Homo sapiens: one gene and its partner. The protein of the gene in region 1 purifies or fractionates together with the protein of each later gene. This does not show direct contact. Each region holds a gene or a part of one and is shown on either strand. Other genes may lie near its edges.

The links. The genes of interacting proteins can lie anywhere in the genome.
Region 2: the proteins of CYTIP (region 1) and CYTH2 purify together in Homo sapiens (affinity purification with mass spectrometry; 3 studies listed by BioGRID and IntAct, with this or other methods). This does not show direct contact.

What each region holds. Positions count from the first base shown.
Region 1 is NC_000002.12:157,430,590-157,434,089, reverse strand, and holds part of CYTIP (cytohesin-interacting protein), read left to right. Parts: intron 1-3,127; coding exon 3,128-3,230; intron 3,231-3,437; coding exon 3,438-3,500. UniProt on the Homo sapiens protein: By its binding to cytohesin-1 (CYTH1), it modifies activation of ARFs by CYTH1 and its precise function may be to sequester CYTH1 in the cytoplasm.
Region 2 is NC_000019.10:48,479,369-48,482,814, forward strand, and holds the end of CYTH2 (cytohesin-2), read left to right. Parts: 3' UTR 1-2,946; downstream 2,947-3,446. UniProt on the Homo sapiens protein: Acts as a guanine-nucleotide exchange factor (GEF). Promotes guanine-nucleotide exchange on ARF1, ARF3 and ARF6. Activates ARF factors through replacement of GDP with GTP.

The DNA.
Region 1 (3,500 bases):
CAGCTAGGTCTTAGATAAGAGAGTGAAATACATTTTACAGATGTGTACTTGATATATTTGCATGTGTTTTGTATAATCATATTGTTATACTGTGTATCAGATTTTAAGTATTTACTTTGGCATTCAAGAGACACTCGAAAGACTATACATCTGTGTATATAGAATGCATATATTCATGGATAGCTCCTGGTATGTTTTGCAACTAGAGTTCATATTGTACATAATGAGCAATTTGTAGCTTTTTTTCCTAATGACAATGCTTTATAATTGTTATTTGAAACACTTGAGAACATTTGGCTCTACTTGCAGATTGCCTCATGCTGTAGGAAATTTTTAAGTCTTTATAAGTTTCAGCATAATTGCCTAAGAATTTCATTGCTTATTAGCTGTCTGCTTTTTCATGAGCACATTTGTAAAATGGGTGAGGTAGGTCAAATGAAGTCTAACCCAATTAAGTGCAACAGTAGTAGCTTAAGCATTTCTGTTTTTTTTTTCCATAGTACGTTTGCATGTCTTTTGGATGTGTTTTGCATAATCATATTCTTACACTCTATATCAGATTTTAGATCTTAGCTTTACTGCTGCTTTCAGAAAACTCTGGTGTGATATCAGCCCCACAATTGGAAAGTCAGTGTTTATTTTAAGATTAGGAACAGGAAACTGCTAAGAAAAACATGTTTTATGAGTAAAGAAACAAAATGGAACTTTAGCTGCAATGAAGACAGAGAAGGCACTTTGAAAAGAGGATCACTTCTACTTTCCTAACTCCTGTACTTTTAAATTTGGAGGAATCTGTAATTCACCACAGTAACTGGTGAAATCTATAGGTTTTAGAAGCATAGTGCTCCCTCTTACTCCCCGGTCATATGAACTACTCCCTATTCTGTTGTAGAGACACTGCTTTTTGTCACTGCTTCTTTTTAAAGGAAAATTATCCTCAAGGATGTGCAGCAGTGGCTACTGAAAACTGGATAAACGACTACTCACCTTTCTTTATTTTTCTTATACTGCCATAATAATGTCACTACTTTCTTAAGTTTTTCTCCCATACCATAAACACTTATTCTCCGTGGAGCAAGAGTCAAAACTATGTCAGGCCACAACACCACTGAACTTTTGTAGATCAACATGAACTAATGGCACCTCTAAATGGCAGCATGTAGGTGTTATCTCAGTGATGCAGGAACCCACACTCCTGTAAATTCCCTCTGGTATATGCTCTCCATTGTCAAATACACACCATAATCTATTCCCTAGTACTCATCAGATTTGCAGCAGTTAACAAATAGGAGACATGCTTCTGGGAACTTTTTGAAAATCAGATAGAACCTCATGTACCCATATTGTGCATGCAGTGTGAGTACATGTTTGGGATGTGGCCTACTAGAGGAATGACACTTTGGAAGAGACCAGATCCATGGTTCTCCATGGGAGCTAGTTTTATGCTGCTTATCAGAATCGTGCAGCCCAATAGGAATGCAGACTTTGGACTCATGCACACCTGAATTCATATCCTCCTAATGCCTTATGGGGTCCTTAGGAGTTTTAAATGAAATAATACATGCAATGTACCTAGTGATGTGCCTTACCAATAGAAGATCCACAAATGACAGGTGTTAGAATGAATGTCACTGGGCATGAGAAAGGACAATGAGATCTTTGTGTCTCTAAGAAATGCAGGTGATCATTGTGTCACTGATCCCTTAATGGGAGCTAGAAGACTGGGTAAGAGAAAAAAGCATCCAATTAATACTTTCTGTAGCTTTGGGGTTTCTGTTTTTTTCTATTTCTAACTACCATATTTTACACCCAATGTGAACATATATGGAGGTGCCAGCTACATAAATCAACATGTTTCTACTGCACTGTACTTACTTTGATCTCTGGGAATGGAGGGTAGAGTCTCACTGCTAATGAGAATTGTTAGAACAGTGGTTTCCCAAAGGAGTGTCAGTTGTATATTTTATTCATGTACCACATGAACTAGATCAGTCTTTCATCTCCAGAAGGGTCTAGGCTATACTGAGAAGACCCCTGGCAGGAAAGCTGTCAATGAAGTTTCTGACATAGATGGGAACATAGTGCATGATCTTTTAAAGTCCCTTCTACCTTTAAGATATGGGGATTCTAAGTGCCTTATAGATTAGATAGAAGTCCTTTAGAGGTGAACAGACCCAAGTTTCTAGAAGTTGCTTGCATGTGGCTGACTTGTGATGCCTCAGGGATTATTGAATAAGAAAGAATGAACATCAGACATCAATTTTTTCACAAGGAAGTACTACTTTAATGTAGCTTAATTTTAGGAATCAGATGTTTAAAAGACGTACTCTACTCAGAACACTGATTTTGCTTCTAAGTGGAACTAGACTTCATAATTTAAATGTGTGAAAAAAAGAAAATTATATTTGTTATAGGTCATTGGGACACTATATCTAGCAAACATTTATTCAGTGTTTTGGTATAATTAAAAATAAAAAAACCCACCACCACCAAACTACTTGTGCCTAATTGAGGCAAGAGTTGAAGCTTAACTTTTTCTAATTTAGTTGGGTGACTAATGAACCGGTGAGGATTCAGGACAGGCATACCAGAGGGTGCTCAGAAATGAAGGTAATTGAGTCAATTATAGTACTTTTGAATAAATGCAGGGCAGATTGTCATTATGTGCAGAACTCTGATTTAAAATAATCATTGTTGGCATGTCTCCTTGCTGCATGTGTACAATTTCATACTCCTATAATGAGTGTTTTAGCTTGGGAGAACCACTTAGGGATTTTTCTCATTGCACTTGGCCATCGTTGTTTTATCCCATTGGGAAATGAGAAACTCAATTTTTAAAAATAAATCGTGATAGCATCAGGTGATATCTTGGGCTTGAAAATATAAAATCTTGAGCCACTCTCATTTCACTTTCTTTCTCATGACAGATGTCTTTATGAATGGAGTTGGCTACAGATTGTCTGGTAGAATTGCAAAATTGATACCTTGATTTAGTTTATAGTGGAAATCCTTTGTCCTTTGAACTTACCTATTATACTGCTTAATGATAATTGACATCATTTTAAATTTTGGCAAATAGATGTTGAGGTTGTTAAATAGTAACTATATATCATCTTAATTTTTACAGTCTTACAGGCCCCAGAATCAGAATGCCTGCTCCTCGGAAATGTTCACTTTGATATGCAAAATACAGGAGGACAGCCCAGCTCACTGTGCTGGCCTGCAAGCTGGTAACTTAAATTTTTGCTCATGTTAGGAATCATTTAAATGGAAAGAAAATAAAATGTTTTGAGAGTGAAGGTCAGGATGTATTTGTTGCTTTGAGTTTTCTTGGCTCCTTTATGTTTTTAAGACTTGGAGCTGCTTGTTTCATTTGCATGTCAGGAGGGATTATTTAACTAACCAACATAACACTCATTTTTCTTGGCATCTCCCAGGTGATGTCCTTGCAAATATCAATGGTGTGAGCACAGAAGGTTTTACCTACAAACAAGTCGTTG
Region 2 (3,446 bases), on another chromosome or scaffold:
TTAATTATTTAACCACTTGGCCTGCTGACCCCCTCATTTCTTGGGGTTGACAGAGTCGAGGTGCTCCGTGGAGCCAGCCTGTTTCCCTGGACAGGGGCCTGGACCCGCCTGTCTCTGGGTGCTGCCTGGGCTGTCCCGGTGGGTCTGTTCTGGTTTCACCCCGAGCCCAGCAGGAGTGGAGTAAAGGGAGAAGGTTAATATGGTGGGAGTCTGGAGTTGGAATTGGCCGGGGACAGAGTTTAGAATGCAGGGATTCAGGGTCAAGGTCTAGCATTCATTCTAGAAGTTACTTGACAGCCATCAGCCAGTTACGCTACAGCCATCAGCTAGTTCCCATCGTTGCTTTCATGGGGCTTGAGGTCTTTGAGGGGCAGGAGATGAAGCTGGTGAGGTTGTGAGCTGGGCCAGGGCTTTGAGGACAACCTGGAGCTGGAAGAACATGCGACCACCTCAGGGAGGGTCAGGGAAGGATGAGTGGGGAGGTGGCCCATGTCCTGCAAGGGCCTTGCTGATGGGATGTCCTGAAGGGCTGGGCAGCCTTAGATCGGGCTAAGAGGGCAGGACTGTGGGCCAGTGCCAGAGCCAGGCTTGTCTGTTCTCAAAGGATCAGCCTCCTTTGGAGGACATTTTGTGTCAAGGATAGGGCTGAGGACCTGCGTTCTGAACGTCTTTCCTGGGATTCTTGACAGCCAAAGAAATTCGAGGATCGCCTCTATGAAGGTGAAGTCTTGGCATGTGGGGTACCCCTGAATCCTGGGCTAAGGTCTGTGACCTTTTGCCCTCCAGTTGGGGTATGTGTGGTGTCCCCAAAGAACAAGGGCTCGTGGATCCCGAGCAGGGTGCGATGGCGGATTGGGAGGTCCCATGTCACTCTCCCATGCCCGCCTTTGAAGCTGAGGCGCTCTTTAGTTAACAAACTACAAGTCCCAGCAGGGACCGGGACGCGGGTGGGAGAGGCGCCTGTGGCCCCGAGGCGTGCCGCGAGTTGTAGTCCCTCCTGCCCGCTGTGTTCGCTTTTGAGCTCTCCGATGGGATGCGGCGCTTCGGAATTTCGGGCTTTGATCCCTGTCCCGCCCTTGGCCACAGGCACCTGCCGGCCTGAAGGCCCCCGCGGTGGGGGTACCCTGCGCCCCTCCGCGGGAAGGTGGACTACAGTTATCGGCAGGCTGTGCGGCGCCAAAGCCACGGTGACCCAGACCCGAGGTTTTTCCGGGCGTCGCAGTTTCCCGAGACTCCGTGGCGGCGTTTGTCTTCTTTTTCTTAGTCAGATCCCGTACTTTTGTGGAGGGTAGAGGAGGCTTTGACCGCCGCGGCCCCGGGGGCTGGTGGGAAATGGAGTTCCAAATGAGAAAATAGAATTCCCCACTTCTCTTTCCCACAGGTGCCAGGGAAACGGAGTCATCGACCCAAGAAGGTCGTGGGAGATGAGGTCCCAGGGTAAACAGCGGGTCCCGCCACTATGTCACCCTTTCCTGCCGCCTCCCCGGATGAACTGCATGCAGGGCGGCCGGCTCCGTGGCAGGCAGAGGCAGGAAGAGGCGCGGAGCCCGCTGGTGGCGAAGAGGGGAGTGCGGCGGGAGGGGAGGGCAGAGGCAGGCGGCCGGTCGCGTGGGGCCTGGGCCGCCCCAGGAGGGCCTCTGGCTGGATTCTTAGCAGATGGAAGCCGTGCAAGGGCAGGAGGCAGGGGCCTGACGTGTTTGGATTGAGGTTGCAGGAGGGGCCCCTGGCTGCTTCAGGGAGAATAATTTGGAGGCGAGCGGGGAGGTGAGAGGAAGCTGTGCGGTGCAGGATGGCGTGGCTGTGGAGGTGGAGAACGTTGGGCCACGCTAGGAGTCTTGAAAGAGGAGCCAAAAGGACTTGCTGAGAGCCGCCGCAGCTGGTGAATGACGGTGCCATGACTGAGGTGGTCGAAAGGGAGTATTTAAGGGGAAATCAGGCATTCCGTTTTGACCAAATTAAGCTGGAGATGCCTGTGGAACATTCCAGCCAGGCTGCATCACGTCACACTGACCTTCAGCATTGCCCACAGTCCATCTTCCCCCAGGACCTGAGGATTTTGCGTCCGGCTCCCTCCTCGCCCAGGACCCCCAAGCTCCCAGCACGCTTCTGATTTTTTTTGTAGGTTTTTTTTTTTGTTTTTTGTTTTGTTTTGTTTTGTTTTTGAGAGGGAGTCTCACTTTGTGCCCTAGACTGGAGTGCAATGGCGCCATCTCGGCTTACTGCAACCTCCACCTCCCAGGTGCAAGCGATTCCCCTGCCTCAGCTTCCCGAGTAGCTGGGATTACAGATGTGAGCCACCGTACCCAGCTAATTTTTGTATTTTTAGTAGAGACGGGGTTTCACCATATTGGCCAAGCTGGTCTCGAACTCCTGACCTCAGGCGATCCATCTGTCTCAGCCTCCCAAAGTGCTGGGATTACAGGTGTGAGCCACCGCGCCAGGCCTCAGCCCACTTCTTTTGGGTGGCAATGGTTTGGATATCGTTTGTCCTCACTAAAATTCATGTTGAGATTCGAGCCCCAGTGTGGCAGGTGTTGGGATGTGGGGCCTCATAAGGAGCTGTGTGGTCTTGGAGGTGGAGTCCTCATGGATAGATTAATGCCTGCCTTAAGGGGTGAGTGAGTGCTCACCCTTGGGAATTTGGGAATTTGGTTTTCTCTCCCTTGCTTCCTTCAGCACCATGTGATCTCTGTGCACACAGCTGCATCCTTCTGCCCTCCCCCAGAAGCAGCAGCAGCCTCAGGGATGAGGGAGGTCCTCAGTGAGTGCACCTGCCCAGTCTTGAACCTTCCAGCCATCAGAATCTGAGCCAAATCAACCTCTTCCTTTATAAAGACCCAGCCTCAGGTCTTCTGTCAGAGCAACACAAAATGGACTCAGCACGGATCAAATTGTGTCTCCCCCACCCCCACAAAAAACTTTATATTAAAATCCTAACCCCCAGCATCTCAGAATGTGATCTGATTAGGAAATAAGGTCATTGCAGATATAATTAGTTCAGATGAGGTCATTCATGTGGGCCCTAATCCAATAGGATGTGTGTCTTATAAAAGTTTGTACAGAGACCCAGACACACAGAAATGACACCATGTGGAGGTGAAGGCAGAGATTGGGGTGACGCCTCTACAAACCGAGGAAAACCAAAGCTGCCGGCACACCCTCAGAAGCCAGAGACCGGGGACTCATCCTCCCTCACAGCCTCAGGAGCAGCCAGGGCTGACACCCTCATCTCAGACTTCTGACCTCCAGCACTGGGAGACCTTCAGTTTTTGTGATTTAAGCCACTAATTTTGAGGTACTTTGTTATGTCAGCCCTAGATAACTAACCACTCCTCCCTCAGACCCAGGAGTCCAGGCCCAGCCCCTTCTTCCCTCAGACCCAGGAGTTGGGGACCCCGGCCCCTCCTCCCTCAGACCCAGAAGTCCAGGCCCCAGCCCTTCCTCCC